3 linked regions of the Homo sapiens genome follow. The protein of the gene in region 1 interacts with the protein of each later gene in a pairwise test. Each region holds a gene or a part of one and is shown in the gene's direction. Other genes may lie near its edges.

What was found.
Region 2: the proteins of IQCB1 (region 1) and PCMT1 interact in binary tests that used the Homo sapiens proteins (3 or more experiments, as listed by UniProt).
Region 3: the proteins of IQCB1 (region 1) and MNS1 interact in binary tests that used the Homo sapiens proteins (3 or more experiments, as listed by UniProt).

Annotation. Positions count from the first base shown.
Region 1 is NC_000003.12:121,768,198-121,777,358, reverse strand, and holds the end of IQCB1 (IQ calmodulin-binding motif-containing protein 1), read left to right. Parts: intron 1-4,645; coding exon 4,646-4,802; intron 4,803-6,784; coding exon 6,785-7,014; 3' UTR 7,015-7,598; downstream 7,599-9,161. UniProt on the Homo sapiens protein: Involved in ciliogenesis. The function in an early step in cilia formation depends on its association with CEP290/NPHP6.
Region 2 is NC_000006.12:149,808,741-149,811,919, forward strand, and holds the end of PCMT1 (protein-L-isoaspartate(D-aspartate) O-methyltransferase), read left to right. Parts: intron 1-1,875; coding exon of another isoform or gene 1,876-1,888; 3' UTR 1,889-2,679; downstream 2,680-3,179. UniProt on the Homo sapiens protein: Initiates the repair of damaged proteins by catalyzing methyl esterification of L-isoaspartyl and D-aspartyl residues produced by spontaneous isomerization and racemization of L-aspartyl and L-asparaginyl residues in aging peptides and proteins.
Region 3 is NC_000015.10:56,428,224-56,434,137, reverse strand, and holds the end of MNS1 (meiosis-specific nuclear structural protein 1), read left to right. Parts: exon of another isoform or gene 1-963; intron 964-2,639; coding exon 2,640-2,765; intron 2,766-3,983; exon of another isoform or gene 3,984-4,944; coding exon 4,945-5,037; 3' UTR 5,038-5,414; downstream 5,415-5,914. Other genes in the region: TEX9 (testis-expressed protein 9), read right to left, coding at 5,694-5,771. UniProt on the Homo sapiens protein: Microtubule inner protein (MIP) part of the dynein-decorated doublet microtubules (DMTs) in cilia axoneme, which is required for motile cilia beating.

The DNA of each region.
Region 1 (9,161 bases):
ATACCACATAGCCTACATATGTAGTAGTCTATACCATTTAAGTTTCTGTAGGTACACTCAATGACATGTGCACAGTGCCAGAATCACCTAACAGCACATGTATAGCAAACTAATTATTGACAGAGATATACAGTTAATGCAGAAAAACTGGAGCAATTGGCTATTCACATGTCAAACAATTGAACTTGAAGCCATACTTCACTTCATATGCAAAATGTAACTCAAAGTAGATCATAGGCCTAAATGCAAAACCTAAAACTATAAAACTTCTAAAAGGAAACAATGGAGAAATATTGTGACCTTTCTTGAATACAATACCAGAAGCATGATTCAAAAAGGAAAATTTGATATATTGGCTTTATTGAAATTTAAAACTTCTCTTCATAAGACACCATTAACAGAATTAAAGAAACAAGGCACAGATTGGGAGAATATCATTGCCAAGCATATATTTGATAAAGGTCCTATATCCATAATATAGAAAGAACTCTCAAAACTAAACAGTAAGAAAACATATGAACTAGTTGTTTTGTTTTTTAAATGGACAAAAGCTTTGAACAGATACTTCACCAAAAGATAGATGACAAATAAACACATGAAAAATGCATCATTAATCACTAAGGAAAATGCACATTAAAACCACAATAAGGGCCCAGCACAGTGGCTCATACCTGTAATCCTAACACTTTGGGAGGCCAAGGTGGGAGGATTGCTTCAGCCCAACAGTTTGAGACCAGCCTGGGTAACATATTGAGACCCTCTCTCTAATTTTTTTAATAAAAATTTAAAATTTTTCAAAAAATAACCGACAGTAAGATACTTCATACCTGTTGGAATTTTAAAAATGGAACATGCCAAAGGTTAGCAAGCATGTGGCAGAGTCACCACTTAGGGGAATGTAAAAGAGTACAACTACTTTGGAAGACAGTTCAACAGTTTCTTTAAAAATTAAACATACATCTATCATATGATTCAGCCATTCTACTCCTAGATATTTACCCCAGAGAAAAAGAAATATATGTCCATATAGACACTTGTACATGAATGCTCATGGCCAAAAACTAGAACCATGGAGTACCATTCAGCATGTATAAAGGAATAAATTGATACTCTCAACAACATGGATGAATCTCTGGCCGGGCATGGTGACTCACGCCCATAATTCCAGCACTTTGAGAGGCCAAGGCAGGTGGATCGCTTGAGCCCAGGAGTTCGAGGCTGCAGTGAGCAGTGATGGCACCACTGCACTCTATCCTGGGTGAGAGAGTGAGACCCTGTCTTCAAAAAAAATTTTTAAAGAAAAAGAAAAAAAAACGTGGATGAATCTCAAAATAATTATGCTAAATGAAAGAAGCCAGACAGAGTAGAATACATTCTTTATGATTCCCTTTATGTAAATTCTAAAAATATAAACCAATCTATAGTAACATTAAATAGATAAGTAGTTGCTTGGGATAAGTAGTTGGTGGATGGGTAGGATGAGGATAAGGGTTTACAAAAGGAAACAAGGAAACGTAGTGATGAACTAGGTATGTGTATGTCAAAGCTTAGCAAATTGTACCCTTTCAATATTTGTTGTTTAGTGTATGTTATTTTTACGTCAATAAAGCTATATTTTTTAAAAGGTTGTTTTAACCTAAATGCTTAAAAAAAAATTTAGGGGTCCTGAGATTTTAAAAATAATCAGCCTGGCCACCAATAAAACATGGCCAATGAATCTCTTCTTTTTAATTATTATTATACTTTAAGTTCTGGGATACATGTGCAGAACATGCAGGTTTGTTACATAGGTATACATGTGCCATGGGTGGTTTGGGACCCATCAACCTGTCATCTACATTAGGTTTTTCTCCTAATGCTATCCCTCCCTTAGTTCCCTACCCCACGATAGGCCCCAGTGTGTGATGTTCCCCTCCCTGCGTCCACGTGTTCTCATTGTTCAACTTCCACTTATGGTTGAGAACATGCAGTGTTTGGTTTTCTGTTCTTGTATTAGTTTGCTGAGAATGATGGTTTCCAGCTTCATCCATGTCTCTGCAAAGGACATAAACTCATCCTTTTTTATGGCTGCATAGTATTCCATGGTGTATATGGCCAGTGAATCTCTTAAGTGCTGATCAATCATATTAGCAACTCCTCCCTTAGCCAAACACCAGAACCGAGTTGGAGAGAGGGGCAGAACCACAACTGAAAGATTTTTCCTGTGAGCAGAGGTAGAATGAAGACAGACAGAAGCATGCCTCCTCTCCAACAAACAGATAATCAGTTCCTAAGCTCTGTAGAGAGGACTATATTGCTTTTAACAGTTTTAATCATTTACAAATTTAATCACCTTTATAAAAATTACATACCCAAGCCCCACACACCCCAAGAAATTCTGATACAGTAAGTTTTGTGTGGCCTCATGTATCTGTATTTTTAAAATTTATTTATTTTCAGGGTGGTAAAATAGATAAAATATAAAAATTACCATTTTAACTATGTTTAAATGTAGTTTGGTAGCATTAAGTACATTCATATTGTTTGTGCAAGCTTCACCACCATCCCATCTTCAGAACTTTTTTCATCTTGCAGAATGGAAACTCTGCATCCTTTAAACACTAACTCACCATTCCCTCACTACCCAGCTTCTGGCAACCACCATTCTACTTTCTGTCTCCATGAATTTGCCTACTCTAAGTACCTCATGAGTAGAATCATACTTCATTGTTTCAGTTAGTATAATGTCTTCAAGGTTCATGTTTTAGCATATGTCGGAATTTTCTACTTTTAAAGGCTGAATAATATTCCATTATATATACTACATTTTGTTTATCCAAGGAACACTTGGGTTCCGTCCACCCTTTGGCTATTGTGAATAATGCTACTGTGACCATGTGTGTACAAATATCTGTGTGTGTACTTGCTTTCAATTCTTTTGGGTGAGTATCCGAAATGGAAATGCTAGATTGTGTGCTAATTCTTTTTAAAAATTTTTTTGAGGAACTGCCATACTGTTTTCCATAGTGGCTGTACCATTTTACATTTCTACCAGTCACACACAGGGTTCCAGTTTCTGTACATCCTTGTCAACATTAGTTATTTTTGTTGTAGTCATTGTTTTTGATAGCAGCTAATAGATATGAAGTTGTATCTTATGGTTTGAACTTGCACTTTCCTAATTAGTGATTTTGAGCATCTTTTCATGTGTTTATTGGCCGTTTCTTTATCTTTTTTGCAGAAATGTCTGTTCAAGTCATTTGTTTATTTTTTTTTCCACAGGGTTATATTTTGTTCATTTTTTAATCAGGTTGTTTTTTGTAGAGTTTTGGGAGTTCTTTATATATTATGGAGATTAATCCCTTAGATGTATGATTTGCAAACATTTTATGCCATTCTGTGGACTGCCAGTTAACTTTCTTGATAGTGATCTTTGGTGCACCAAGGTTTTTAATTTTGATGAAGTTCATTTTGTCTGGTTTTTGTTGTTGTTTTTTTTTTCCTGTGCTTTGGTGTCGTATGAAGAAATCATCACCAAAACCAATGTCATGATGCTTTTCCTGTGTTTTCTTCTAGGAGTTTTACAGTTTTAGCTCTTATGTTTAGGTCTTTGATCTCTCTTTTTCTAATACACTATATGTAGTTCTGATGCATGCTCCTGTTTTTCTTTTTTTAAAGTGCTTCTTTAGCCATACTCTAGTGCAGCTGTTTAAGATCCTGTGGCTGAGAAGTAAGGTTTTAGTGGAACAGGGTCATATCCAGGATAGGAACAGGAATATTTGAGAAAGCTGTGGTGTCAGGTTCTTTATCACCTCCAAAGTTAAGATTATTTCATCCTTGCCCAAACTAATCAGTTAAGTTCCCCTTAAATTAGCTGACTAGCCAAAAGAACATGGTCCTTTGGATGATTTTGTCCCTTGTTCTGTGGATCCAGAAGCAGTTACAACATATGGCTTGGATAAGTTTGGGAGTGAGAATGGGATAAGAAGTAAAACAAAGAAACAAAGGGATTGGCGTTGTTACACCTGTTATAGGCCAGTGTCTTTTTTTTTTTTTTTTTTTTTTTAAGGCAGAGTCTTGCTCTGTTGCCTAGGCTGGAGAGCAATGGCGCAATCTCGGCTCATTGCAAACTCTGCCTCCCAGGTTCAAGTAATTCTCCCGCCTCAGCCTCCCGAGTAGCTGGGATTACAGGCACCCACCATCATGCCTGGCTAATTTTTGTAGAGATGGGTTTTCACCGTGTTGGCCAGGCTGGTCTTGAACTCCTGACCTCAGGTGATCCACCCACCTTGGCCTCCCAGAGTGCTGGGATTACAGGCGTGAGCCACCACACCCGGCCCCAGGCCAGTGTCTTTACGAAACCATTTGTAATTTTTCACTGTGATCTCTCAAGCTTATCTCTTCTCCCATAATTCCACAGTGTCTGAGAAAGTAAAGTATAGGCACATACAAAAAAGAAAGACAAAAAACTTCTCCACCATTATTTTTATCTAAAACTTTTAAGAGACTAATTAATACTTGCATAAGAGTACAAGATAGACATCAATCATAAGATTCAATTGATAAAATGAGAGACAGCTAAGCAGTCTAAAACCTCTGCTAAGTGGTTGGGTACTTTGATACCTATGTCCTCTCTGTGACAGGTTTTTCTGTCCTGTGTTTCCAGGGCTCTCCAATGTCAGATGTGGTCAGTAGGGAGCTCCATGCCCAAGCTCAAGAACGACTGCAACACTACTTTATGGGCAGGGCCCTAGAAGAGCGAGCCCAGCAGCACAGAGAAGCTCTGATAGCACAGATCAGCACCAACGTTGAACAGCTAATGAGTATGTGCTCATTTTACTTTCGTTCTCTAAAAGGAACAACCTATGCGAGGTTTGTGACATCCAAAACCTTTAGAAGGAAACCATTACTAAGCATCTTTAGCTCATCCCCTAACCTCAGGAAATTTCTACATAGATCAGACCAGCACACAATGTTTTCAAATGATGCGGATTTTATAACCACCTTCTTACCTGTTTCCCCAAGCCTTGCCATCATTCATATGTGTCACCCCAAAGTTATTAATTTCAGATGCTGAGCCCTACTAGCCATCTTTTACTAAGTAATCTGAAAAGCTTTTGGTCATATTTTGTAAGTAGATGATGACAATAGTTACAGTGCCATTCACTTGTAGAGCATTTTATAAATTTTTTTTTATTATTATTTTGAGACGGAGTCTTGCTCTGTTGCCAGGCTGGAGTGCAGTGGTGTGATCTTGGCTCACTGCAACCTCCGCCTCCCACGTTCAAGCGATTCTCCTGCCTCAGCCTCCCCGAGTAGCTGGGACTACAGGTGCGCACCACCACGCCCAGCTAATTTTTGTAGTTTTAGTAGAGACGGAGTTTCACCATGTTGGCCAGGATGGTCTCGATCTCTTGACCTTGTGACCTGCCTACCTCGGCCTCCCAAAGTGCTGGGATTATAGGCGTGAGCCACCGTGCCTAGCCTATAATTTTTAATGAAGCACTTTACAAAAATGAATTCATCATAACCACTGATCCATTTAATGAGAGATCCCATCCATGAAGCCCCTGTGTTTCAGTCAGCATCTTGGATTTCTTTAGTATATGTAAACAGAAAGGACCAGTGTTTTCTATTTAATGGCCACTACTTGGTAATTTTATATTCTTAAATTGGATAAATGGCTGAAACTGAGCCTCTCATCTATAGGATGAGGTTCTATTAAAGTTTCTATTCTTTAAATAAACCATCTTGGCTGGGTGAGGTGGCTCATGCCTCTAATCCCAGCACTTTGGGAGGCCGAAGTGGGCGGATCACGAGGTCAGGAGTTCGAGACCAGCATGACCAACATGGTGAAACCCCATCTCTACTGAAAATACAAAAATTAGCTGGGCATGGTGGCGGGTGCCTGTAATCCCAGCTACTCAGGAGGCTGAGGCAGGAGAATTGCTTGAACCCGGGAGGCGGAGGTTGTAGTAAGCAGAGATCGCGCTACTGCACTCCAGCCTAGGTGACAGAGTGAGACTTTGTCTCAAAAAATAATAATATAAATAAATAAGCCATCTTACAAAAATCTACATCTTTTTAAATTCCTTTAAACACAGAAATGGCCGGGCACGGTGGCTCACGCCTGTAATCCCAACATTTTGGGAGGCCGAGGTAGGTGGATCATCTGAGGTCAGGAGTTCGAGACCAGCCTGACCAACATGGTGAAACGCCCGTCTCTACTAAAAATACAAAATTAGCTGGGCATGGTGGCGCACGCCTGTAATCCCAGCTACTCAGGAGGCTGAGGTAGGAGAATTGCTTGAACCCAGGAGGCGGAGGTTGCAGTGAGCCGAGATCGTGCCATGGCATTCCAGCCTGGGCAACAAGAGCAAAACTCTGTCTCAAAAAAAAACAGAAATGGGCTGAATATGTTGACACATGGCTGTAATCCCAACACTTAGGGAAGCTGAGGCAGAAGGATTGCTTGAGTCCAGGAGTTTGAGACCAGCCTGGGCAGCATAGTGAGATCTCTACAAAAAAAGAAAAAACATTAGCTGGGTGTGGTGGCATAGTCCCAGGTACTTAGGAAGCTGAGGTGGGAGAATCACTTGAGCCCAGGAGGTTGAGGCTGCAGTGAGCCGTGATCTTGCTACTGCACTCCAGCTTAGGCAATAGAGCAAGACCCTTTCTCAAAAGTAGTACATTCAGAGTTGGAATGCTGTTTCTGCCTGCAGAGTTACAGCTCTGTAGCTTCCAAGTTCCTACCTGCTTGGCATAGGACTCTTCTGCTCATCTGTTTATTTTCTGTCCACTACAGAGGCACCAAGTCTGAAGGAGGCAGAAGGGAAAGAACCTGAGCTCTTCCTAAGTAGATCCAGGCCTGTGGCAGCCAAGGCCAAGCAGGCCCATCTCACAACCCTGAAGCACATACAAGCACCCTGGTGGAAGAAGCTTGGAGAAGAATCTGGAGATGAGATTGATGTTCCAAAGGATGAGCTTAGTATAGAATTAGAAAATTTATTCATTGGTGGAACCAAACCACCTTAGTGAGTAACCCTAAGAATTGACACAAATCTCATATTTTAGGAGATTATATTGGTTCTGCCTCTGGCATGCTGGTAGACTAGGGCCATCCTAACTTATTATTTTCCAGAGGTTCTCCTCCAGACAAGACCTGCAGTAAGCAAAGAGTTATATTCTACCTCTCTCTCAATTTTCTTTTTCTTTTCTCTGTATCCTCATCGTTAGCCACACACAGATTTGTGTGGCTTTTATTGTAGAACTAAACTTAGCATAGTGTTCTGTTGTTTACATGAAGTGTGTTTTTCTTTGGTTTCTTCTGTTTTCCAACTAAATATTTTTTTCTAAATAAATATTTTCAACAATTGATTTGAAAAATTTGTCAGGATTATTTCAACTTTTCACATTTGTTATCTGAAATTCCTATTTCCTGTTAACATAGGAGGTGTGTGCAGACTTTATTAATGTGAGGAAAAGAAATGCTCAATTGAAGGACATTTCCCTGTTTTCTATAAAGCAATGGTTGAACTCATTTTCTATTTTGTTATTTCTAAAAGGAACTGCATACCAAAAAAATGCATTCTTTCTATTAAACTGTGAGAACTACATAATGTACTGTTTCCCTTTTTGTCTTTTCTCCTAGGAATCTCAAAGCTAAATATAATGTTTAATTTTTGTTACAATCCTAGGTACCTTTATGATTATTTGGTTCCAACCTAATACTTTTCAGTTTCCCTGTTTACTTTAAATATGTTTTAATACCATAACATTGAAGCCACTTCAATTTGTGTTTGTAACAATATGGAATTTAAGTTAAAATCAATTAACAAATCATGACTCCATATCATAAAGAATCTGGAAGATGCTCTTTGTAAAATGAGTGAAAATACCAGTATTTCTGGATGTAAAGACCAAATTGTATAATATTGCGCAATCTCTAATGTTAACTTTAGTAAAATTCTAATCAAAATTCCTATATTTGTACTTATAATTGGAAAAGAAATGTAGAAAAATTATGTAAGAGTGTTGCTCCCAATTTAGCAAAGAAAATGCCAGATAATCTAGAACAATAATTTTTCTTGAGCCCATTAGATAGCTGAGGACTCAAGCCAACCATGTAAACTGGGATAGGAGTCTGTATCTGTGAAATGAAGTATTTCATCTATAGTAGAGCACAAGAGAGAAGTGGCTAGGTAAGAAGAAATCAAACAAAATTTTAGCAAATTCTTAAAGGCCAGGTGTGGGCTAGCACGTCTATTTAGAATATCTAAGAGCCACAGACATAAGAAGTTGGGCCTCTACCAAATGCTCACAAGAAAGATTGAGAGTTAAGGCCAGGCACAGTGCCTCACTCCTATAATCCCAGCACTTTGGGAGGCCGAGGCAGGTGGATTGCTTGAGCCCAGGAGTTCAAGGCCAGCCTGGTCAACATGGTGAGACCCTGTCTCTACTAAAAATACAAAAATTAGCTGGATTTGGTGGCGTGCGCCTGTAGTCCCAGCTACTCAGGAGGCTGAGGCAGGAAGATTGCTCGAGTCCAGGAGGCAGAGGTTGCAGTGAGCTGAGATTGTGCCACTGTACTGCAGCCAGGGCAACAGAGTGAGATCCTGTCAAAAAAAAAAAAAAGGTTGGGAGCAAGGCAAGAGGCCTGAAGAAGACCTTTGGGGTACAGGCAAACATGAAGTGATAGGCTGCTACTGGGTGACATAGGCAAAGTCCCCACTTCCCCTTTTAAAAGTCTTAAGCTGCTAGAGCGAGGGCAGTGAATCTCTCTTACCTTTAAGGCTCAGGCAAGATTCCAGGAAGTACTCCAGGACATTGGTCTGGGCAAAAATTTCTTGAGTATGACCTCAAAAGCACAGGCAATCAAAGCAAAAATAGTTTTACTTTTTTTTTTCTTTTTTTTTTTGAGACAGTTTCACTCTTGTTGCCCAGGCTGGAGTGCAATGGCCTGATCTTGGCTCACCACAACCTCCGCCTCCCGGGTTTGAGCAATTCTCCTGCCTCAGCCTCTCGAGTAGCTGGGATTACAGGCATGTGCCACCATGCCTGGCTAATTTTTTGTATTTTTAGTAGAGATGGGGTTTCTCCGTGTTGGTCAGACTGGTCTTGAACTCCCGACCTTAGGTGATCCACCCGCCTCGGCCTCCTAAAGCGCTGGGATTACAGGTGTG
Region 2 (3,179 bases), on another chromosome or scaffold:
ATTCTCCTGCCTCAGCCTCCCGAATAGCTAGGATTACAGGTGCATGCCACCACACCCGGCTAATTATTTGTATTTTTAGTAGAGACGAGGTTTCACCATGTTAGCCAGGATGGTCTCGATCTCCTGACCTCATGATCCGCCCGCCTTGGCCTCCCAAAGTGCTGGGATTACAGGTGTGAGCCACTGCCCCTGGCAAATTGTAGTAAATTATTTAAAAATAACAATATCTTTGGCTTGGGCATGGTGGCTCACACCTGTAATCCCAGCACTTTGGGAGGCTGAGGTGGGCAGATCACTTGAGGTCAGGAGTTCGAGACCAGCCTGAGCAACGTGGTGAAACCCTGTCTCTACTAATAATACAAAAAAAATTTAGCCGGGTATGGTGGTGCCTGCCTGTAATCCCAGCGACTCGGGAGGCTGAGGCAGGAGAATTGCTGGAACCTGGGAGGCAGAGGTTGCAGTGAGCCATGATCACACCACTGCACTCCAGCCTAGGTGACAGAGCGAGACTCTGTCTCAAAAAAAAAAAAAAAAAAAAAAAGCCAAAACAAGAAAAACAATATCTTCAGTTCATATTCTAAAAAGCAGAAGTGAATTTTACTTTATGAATAGAGCACTTTGCAAATAATTCTTTGTTGACCAAATATTTTAATGCCTGCATGAGTTAAGTAAAAGCTGTTCTATGAGAATTATAACATTGTTATTTGGAAGAATATATTAAGAGGAAGCAGACTTATGATTTGTCATTTAATAGATAATCCAATACTATAGGATAAAGGCAGCTTATTGGAGAAATGATTTTAAAAATATTTTCTTGCACAATTTACAAAATTTAGTTTAAAAAAATTGTCCAGTAATTTACCCCCACTTACTTGTGAAATTATGAGCTCTTTATTTCTTCTTCCCTTCAAATTTATCTTAACAACTTTTTCAAAACTTTTAACTTTAATTTTTATTGCCAACAAGTTGCTAGGATAGTACAAATAACTCCTAAATCTCTTCATCCAGAGTCATCAATTATTATCATTTTTCTACATTTCTTTCCCCTCTTTCTATATATACATATATGTAATTTTTTTCCTTTTTCTTAAACCACTTGAGACTTAATTATCAATATCATGCTTCTTTACCCCTAAAGTTCTTGTTTTTGTCACTCACATTACCTTCAGCTATGAGGCTTGTGGGCTTCTCTCGTGGTTTTATTCATTTTTTCACTTTTAACAGTTTTACTGAGGTATAACTGAGATACCATACAGTTTATTTTAGACTGCATTTTTATTCCTTCCTTCCTCTCACTGGCAGTTGCTGGTACAGTGCTGCACCTGGCTGAGTGAATGGTTTCTTTTGGAGCTGATAAAGCTGCCTTATGAAATCAGCTGACAGGTATATTATACCTACAGATGATGCCTTTTCTCTCAGAGCGCTTGGGTTGAGATTGACCCACTCCACAATTGCTAGTGGACATTCTGAGCAAAAGACCACATTTCTGTCCAATTTTGTGAATGTAACTATCAACTCATTTGAACTCTAAAACACTTAAGTTGTCATTTTACTATAGTGTAAAGATGACCGTAGATCTAAAAGATATTTTTTCTGAATTTTGACATTGAAGGAAGAAATCTATTTTTAGAAATCAAAAATGAAGAACTCACGCCCTTTAGGTTGCATACTTGGTTCTGGAGTGGCATGGAAGATGTTTGGAATGGCTGACCCTCTGTTGCTTTCACTTGGGTTGTTTGCATTTTTATTTTTTAAATATATTGCTTGGTGATCAGCGCATTTTTATTGACTTAATAGTTGTGTCTAAACTATTATAAAGCCAAATTGGGTAGTGTGTAACTCCTACTAATGTATTTCTCTCTTTTTTCCTCACAGGGATGAATTGTAAAAGCAACATCAGCTTGACCAGTATAAAATTACAGTGGATTGCTCATCTCAGTCCTCAAAGCTTTTTGAAAACCAACACCATCACAGCTTGTTTTGGACTTTGTTACACTGTTATTTTCAGCATGAAAATGTGTGTTTTTTTAGGGTTTCTGATTCTTCAAAGAGGCACAGAGCCAAATTGGTAGAGGAAGGATGCAAAGTATAAATTTGTGTAATATTACTTTAACATGCCCATATTTTACTTGGAAATATTAAAAGAAAGGGTTCTGTAAAATGGAAAACTTAGTTTGTGAATTGATTTTGAGGAGTGGTTTTTCTTTTCTTGGACACTTAATTCTGTTCTGATATTAATTTATCAGATTGCTTTTGTGCATTGGATAACACCACCATTCACAAGTTAAGATTCTTGGTATTTGGATATCTGTTAGATGCTACTAAGAAAATAGAGATGAGCTTTCTTTTTAAAGCTTTTGATGTGGTGTCATAGAATAGCATGTTGTAGATACAATCAGCTGCTTTGTTACCTTAAAACTAGGCATTTGTAAATATTAAACCATAAGATGGCAGGTGATGTCCTGTAAACACTCAGCTGTTCAGATTGGACATAACTGACTTAGTTCTTCCCTTCTCTCTCTCTCAAAATTATAGGAGACTTGTAGTTTAGTGTGGTTTTCTGTTTCTAATTTGCTGCTGATAATGTATATGAACTTAACATGCTGTGTAAGCTGTGTCCTAGTTCTTGAACAGTTTATGCAGTGCTGCTTTGCCAAATAAAGTTAAAAGTAAAAGAGGCATTGGTTGTTTTTGAATATAGAAGGAAGAACAGCAAGTCCACCAGATAGGGAGTGTTTACGATCATGGGAAAAAGACTGTTTCTCTGGTTGTTTCCTTTTGCGAAGTCTGAGTAAGTAATTAGCATTAATCCAACTGTACATTGTAGAATGTGACTACACTGCTCCAGGGCCAGGACCGTACTTCAGTCGTCATTTCTCTTTGACTCCCTAGCCCAGGGCTTGCCCTGTAGTAGCTATACAGTAAATGCTGGTGAGTGAGTGAGTGGTGAATGAATCGACTTAAAGTCAGGAAAGAACAGGATTGAGGGTGAACAGACCAAAACCCATCTCTCACCTATACAAAGATTTATTAATATAATGACTATAGCTGAATTTCTAAGAAGGCAGTAGCACTTTGGGATCTTATTTAAATGTTGTGATTTATAACTTTTATAAGAAGTAGTTCTGGAACTGAGGAAATATAAGCTCCAGAATGAGCAGAATCAGCACTCCCAGCAA
Region 3 (5,914 bases), on another chromosome or scaffold:
GTAAGAAAAAGTTGTGGGGTTTTTTTGGTCATTATCATTAAACAGCAATAGCTCATCTATCATCCACTAAACATTTACTGAGAAGCTTTATATGCCAGACAATGTTAGTATGTTTACTAATATATATATAAATTTTCTGACCATTTTTGCTTCTAGAAAATATTTATTGATGCTTTCTATGTGCTAAACACTGGTTGGTATTGAGAACATAAAAGGTAAATAAAACTAAGTCCATGTCACTTATGAATTTATGGTCTTGGTTAAGAAAAATATATAAAAAGTAATTATAAATATGTCATGTACATGTGATAATAGGTTATAGAGCTATGGATGTTTTGGTATGGCAGAGAGAGAAACAGATCATGAACACCCTGCATGCTATTTTAAGAAGGTGGGCTTTTCTAAGGGAAGCCACTGAAGATTGAAAAGCTGTATATTAAGATCTGTACTTTGAAAGACGATTCAAGTGAGAGCATTGAAGGTAGATAAGAGATGAGTAAGCTCGGAGATAGGGAGATCAGTAAGTAAGTTATTATAATAATCCCAGTGACAAGTGGTGAAACCCATGCAAATAGATAAGGGATCCACCCGAGAGATGTTAAGGATACGGAATTGATGGGGCTTGGTGACCAGTGAGATCTAGGGTGAGAGAAGACTTAAGGCTACCCCTAATAAATAATACTGTCATTCCATCTTTTTAATTATTTTTTTAATATTTTTAAGTTCCAGGATGCATGTGCAGAACATGCAGGTTTGTTACACAGGTATACATGTGCCATGGTGGTTTGCTGCACCTATCAACCCGTCATCTAGGTTTTAAGCCCTGCATGCATTAGGTATTTGTCCTAATGCTCTCCCTTCCCCTTGTCCCCCCCACCCCCCGACAGGCCCTGGTGTGTGATGATGTTCCTCTCCCTGTGTCCATGTGTCACTTCCATCTTTAATGGGTGACTGGGTGACATCCTAAGGAAAGAGTATAGAGGAAAAGAAATAGATTTTGAGGGTGCAAATAATTCTATTTTGTCCACCCAAAATGATTTGGTGGCCCAGGGGAAGATTACTAGTTGGAAATGTAGATTTAAGTGTTGGAGAGGGAATGAAGTTTTTGGCTTTGGATACATTGACTTATTTATGTCTCATCCGTAAAACTAAATACTTATATTGTCTCACTAGATTTTGTGGTTTAAGAACCAAATGGATAATATGTAGGTGTTTTGAAAATCGGTAGGAAGAGAAGAATTTAGAGGAAGACTAAGTGAGACTTACATGACTTCTTTTAAAACTATACAAAGTAGGAGTCAAAATAATGCAGATGTTTCAAATATGAGAAACTCATGGGAATACAAGTGCTGTTATATTTCAGATTGGAGCTCATCTGTTCTCAGAAGCTAAGCAGGATCAGGCCTGGTTAGTACTTGGATAGGAGAAAGCTCCTGGAAAAGTTAGCAAGACAACTAACTAGAAATCAGACTAAAAACTAAATGGAAATCAGATAAAGCCACCTAATGCATAGATACTTATACAAATAATTTTTGTCTTAATTTTTAAAGACTTATAAATGTTCCCAATATGAAGCTGTCGGCTTAGTTTTGTCCGTTTGATTGGGCAACATTTTTGTTCTGGCCCCAAGTCAAGGACAGATCTTCGTGATGAAACTCATTATACAATCCTATAAGGTCTAACCATGTTTTTTGGATTTCAGAGACATTCCTAAATAGGTATCTGTAATTCTGTCTACCTCTACGAAAATCATACGGTCAGACAAAATCTGAAACTTCCCAGGAGGTAGTTTCCTACACCAAAGCTATTCAGAATTTGTCCTAAATGGATAAGTTGATTTCGTAACTGCCTAAACAATTTAATTTACTATAAATTTTTCTTTTTAGGATAAACATTGAATGTGGCCTGCCAGATCCTTCTTAGGAAAATCTGCATTAGCCCAAAGTAGACTCTACCATTGGACAAAAATGTATCAAGTTTGCTTTCCCCTGTAACATTACAGAACTTTCCTGTATCTCCTCTTTATAAGGAATGGATGAATTAAGATAGAATTAGGTTTGAATGCAAGTACAGTCTCAAATTAACAGTGGCTTAGTAGATTACTGTTCTTTCACGTAGTTCAAGTCATCTTTTCTATATGGCCCAGAATTTTGATGTGATTATTTAAGAGTGAGCACTTTCCTAAGAAATACTAGTGGAATTCTCATGCTTCATATCATCTTTATATATATATATATGAAAATATCCTTTAGATATTTCTGATCTTCTTTATTCACTATTTTTTGTTTTACACTGTAAACTCTTCAGCATCTGGTATATGGTAAGCATTCAGTAAATATTTACTGTATTAGGCAGTCACTCCTTTGAATATTTTTTCCCTTGGTAATGAAGACACTTTCCTGAAAATATTTGTTTGCCTCCTTGTAATTTTAAAGGAATAATGACAGTAAAAAATACATAGATATGTGTACAGACATAAAATATATATTTTAAAAATATATATTATCTAGAATCTTTTGAACTTAGTGTCATAAATAGTTCATCAATTTTATCTAATTCATTGCATGAGTAGTTTTATTTGAAAACTTCGTATAAGATTAATGTACTTTGTGATAACAAAATTTGATCTGCATTTCCAGCAACGTGAACTAGAAGAGTGGCAGTTGCAGCAAAGGCGGCAAGGATTTATTAATGCAATTATTGAAGAAGAAAGGCTAAAACTTCTTAAAGAGCATGCTACAAACTTACTAGGCTATCTCCCTAAAGTAAGTGAGATTTATCTCAAGTTGTAATCTTCATGACCTGTAATAGTGAAAAAAACATGGTATTTGGATTTTAGAGTGCCTTGGTTTTGCTCACTTCTTGCTCGGTTATGAAGCAGCAATGGGATCCTCCTGTCCAGGCACTGAACCTCTCTGGGCCCATTTCAGTATATCTAAAATGATTGGTCTTAGCACATTATTAGATGTATGAGCTTGATTTACTGAATTTGTACCTTATTTATCGCCCAGGCTGGAGTGCAGTGGCAAGATGTCAGCTTACTGCAACCTCTGCCTCCCGGTGATTCTCCTGCTTCAGCCTCCTGAGTAGCTGGGATTACAGGCGTTTGCCACCACACCCAGCTAATTTTTGTATTTTTGGTAAGGACAGGATTTTGCTATGTTGGCCAGGCTGGTCTTGAACTCTTGGCCTCAGGTGATCCATCTGCCTCAGCCTCCCCAAGTGCTGGGTGGGCCACCACACCTGGCCTGAGTTTGTATTTTAGAGTTTCTTTTCTCCCCTTTTAGTGTAGGAAATCTAAAGCTACCCTAGAACAACTGTAGTACTTACATGCCAAAGATGAGAATGTGTATGAAAACATTGTCACTGGTAACACCAGTAATAGGCACATGGTTGAACTGAGCTTGAGACTACCCTAGAACTGTAGTACTTACATGCCAAAGATGAGAATGTGTATGAAAACATTGTCACTGGTAACACCAGTAATAGGCACATGGTTGAACTGAGCTTGAGACAGATCTGCTCTACAGTAGGAAGTTATAACTAGTTAAACTTGATTTTTAAAATTCCAGAAGATAGTGAATTTTAATGTATACCTGAGACACACTGTGACTTCAAATAAAATAGTAACTGGCTGGGCATGGCAACTCATGCCTATAATCCCAGCACTTTGGGAGGCTGAGGCAGGAGGATCACCTGAGCCCAGGAGTTCAAGACCAGCCTGGGAAACATGGGGAGATGCCATTGCTACAAAAAATAAAAAGTTAACTGGATGTGGTGATGCACGCCTGTAGTCCCAGATACTCTGGAGGCTGAGGTTGGAAGATTGCTTGAGCCTGGAAAGTTGAAGCTGCAGTGACCCATGATCTTGCCACTGCACTCCAGCCTGGGCAACAGAGTGAGACCCCGTCTTGTCTTAAAAAAGTAATAACAGTTTCATAGGCCACATAAACATCTAGACTCATATAAATAAGATCGCCATCTTTCAGCTATAGAAATGCCATTTCATATTTTATTCAGTAGAATCAAGTGCATATTTATTTTATTATATTCACTCTGGTGCTAAGGAAGGAAAAAGATATATAGGTAATTACTGCCTGGCCACAGGACTTGATAGTCTAATTGGTTAGAAAGGATTAAGGAATACAAAATGATGTATTAATGATAAAATCCATATGTAATTAATACATTTCATAAACTAAATTATAAATTGTAGGAATGTCTTTCTTTGGGATTTGATATTTTTGTAGAGGAAATAATTGTGGAGGCAGCAGGAGGGATTAATAAACTTGATATCCAAAAATGACCTTTATCCTTTAGGTCCTAATGGTGCCAAATGACTTCAGTTATCCCTAAAATTCTTTATTCTTTAGATTGCAATTTAAGTAAATATTTAATTTTGTTTTAAAGAGCCTTTTGCAGTATACTGTAGGGGAAAAGAAAAATAGAACAGTGAAGAATTCCAAAGGGTTTGCTTAAATGGCTTAACTCCAAACCTGGATTCTTTTCTGCAAGATTGACTGTTTGCTGATTAGCCATAGAACTGAGGCATGAAGAACTAATCCCATGCATGAATCTACTGAAGCTCACCATTATATCATATTATAGAGCTATTTAAAGAAAAGGGTAGGGTACAGTATAGATGAAGTGCCTTCCTATCTAGGTAATCCAAGCAGTAGAACTTGTAGAAGAGCTCAGATTCCTATGAAAAGCTCCTACACTAGAGCTGATAAATCAGAAAATTGGGTCAGTCTAGGAATATTCAATATATATGTAAAGTCTTATTTTTTGAAAAGTATTGATTTTTTTAAAGTTTCATTAATCTGTTGAATAGATTTCATTACCTTGGAGATAACTTTACTAATCTTATGTCTGTCAGTCTTAAAAGCATTTAGTGAAATATTCTGGTATTCAAAAGTAACCCACAAAGTATTTTTCTCGTAGGGAGTATTTAAAAAAGAGGATGATATTGATCTGCTTGGTGAAGAGTTCAGGAAAGTATATCAACAAAGGAGTGAAATTTGTGAAGAGAAATGATATCATCAAAATTGGGTAAAGCATAGATTTTTTGCATGTTACCACTAGATGTCAGCATAACTTTTGTTTTACAGTTCAGTGGCATTAGGTATCCATTGTCTGTTTGGATTTTGTAAATCATCACTGAATTTCATAACTTGTAAACAATTATCAGATACAAATTAATTTTAATCAAGCTGTTATTTTTGTACTGATAATTTCAAAATCCGATTTCTACAACACTACAGAGCACTGTTTGCATCCCCATCCTCAAGACAGTATATTTACCTTGACTAATACAGAACTCTACCCCAAAGTGAACTGCCTTCTGTCTGTGTTTACGAACTTTACTTACTTGATTTAGCCAGGGAAATAAATATTTGGAATTTTCTTTTAAAGCATCTTTTTTGGTCTACTGTAAGGGAGGAGAATTATAAATGAAAAGAGTCAAGAATTTTATTATCTGATGTGCTTAATTGTCACGCTAAGAACTTAAAAAACAACTCAAAAAGAGCTAATAGCTAATCTCCTAAATCTAAAAAGGGAATTCTTTGAAATTATTTTGCTTTCATAATCAAATATATTACTTATGAAGAATAAAAATAATTCAAACCACTACAATAAGTAAAATGGGTATCCATCACATACTGTCATAGAGACTAACTGAAGTAGATCACTTATGAATTTCCCCATTCAAGTGCTTTCATAAATTCCTCCTCAGTGAAAGATAGCATCTTGGCAGCTTCAATATGCATCTGTTAAAAAAAAAATCAATATTGTCTGATTTAGTATTAAGAGTAGGCCACCAAACAACAGGAAGTTTGTAAAAATGTGTGGATAATATATTGTCAGAATATAAGTTCTGTTGTAGGAATGTATACTCTTAATTCCAATAAGC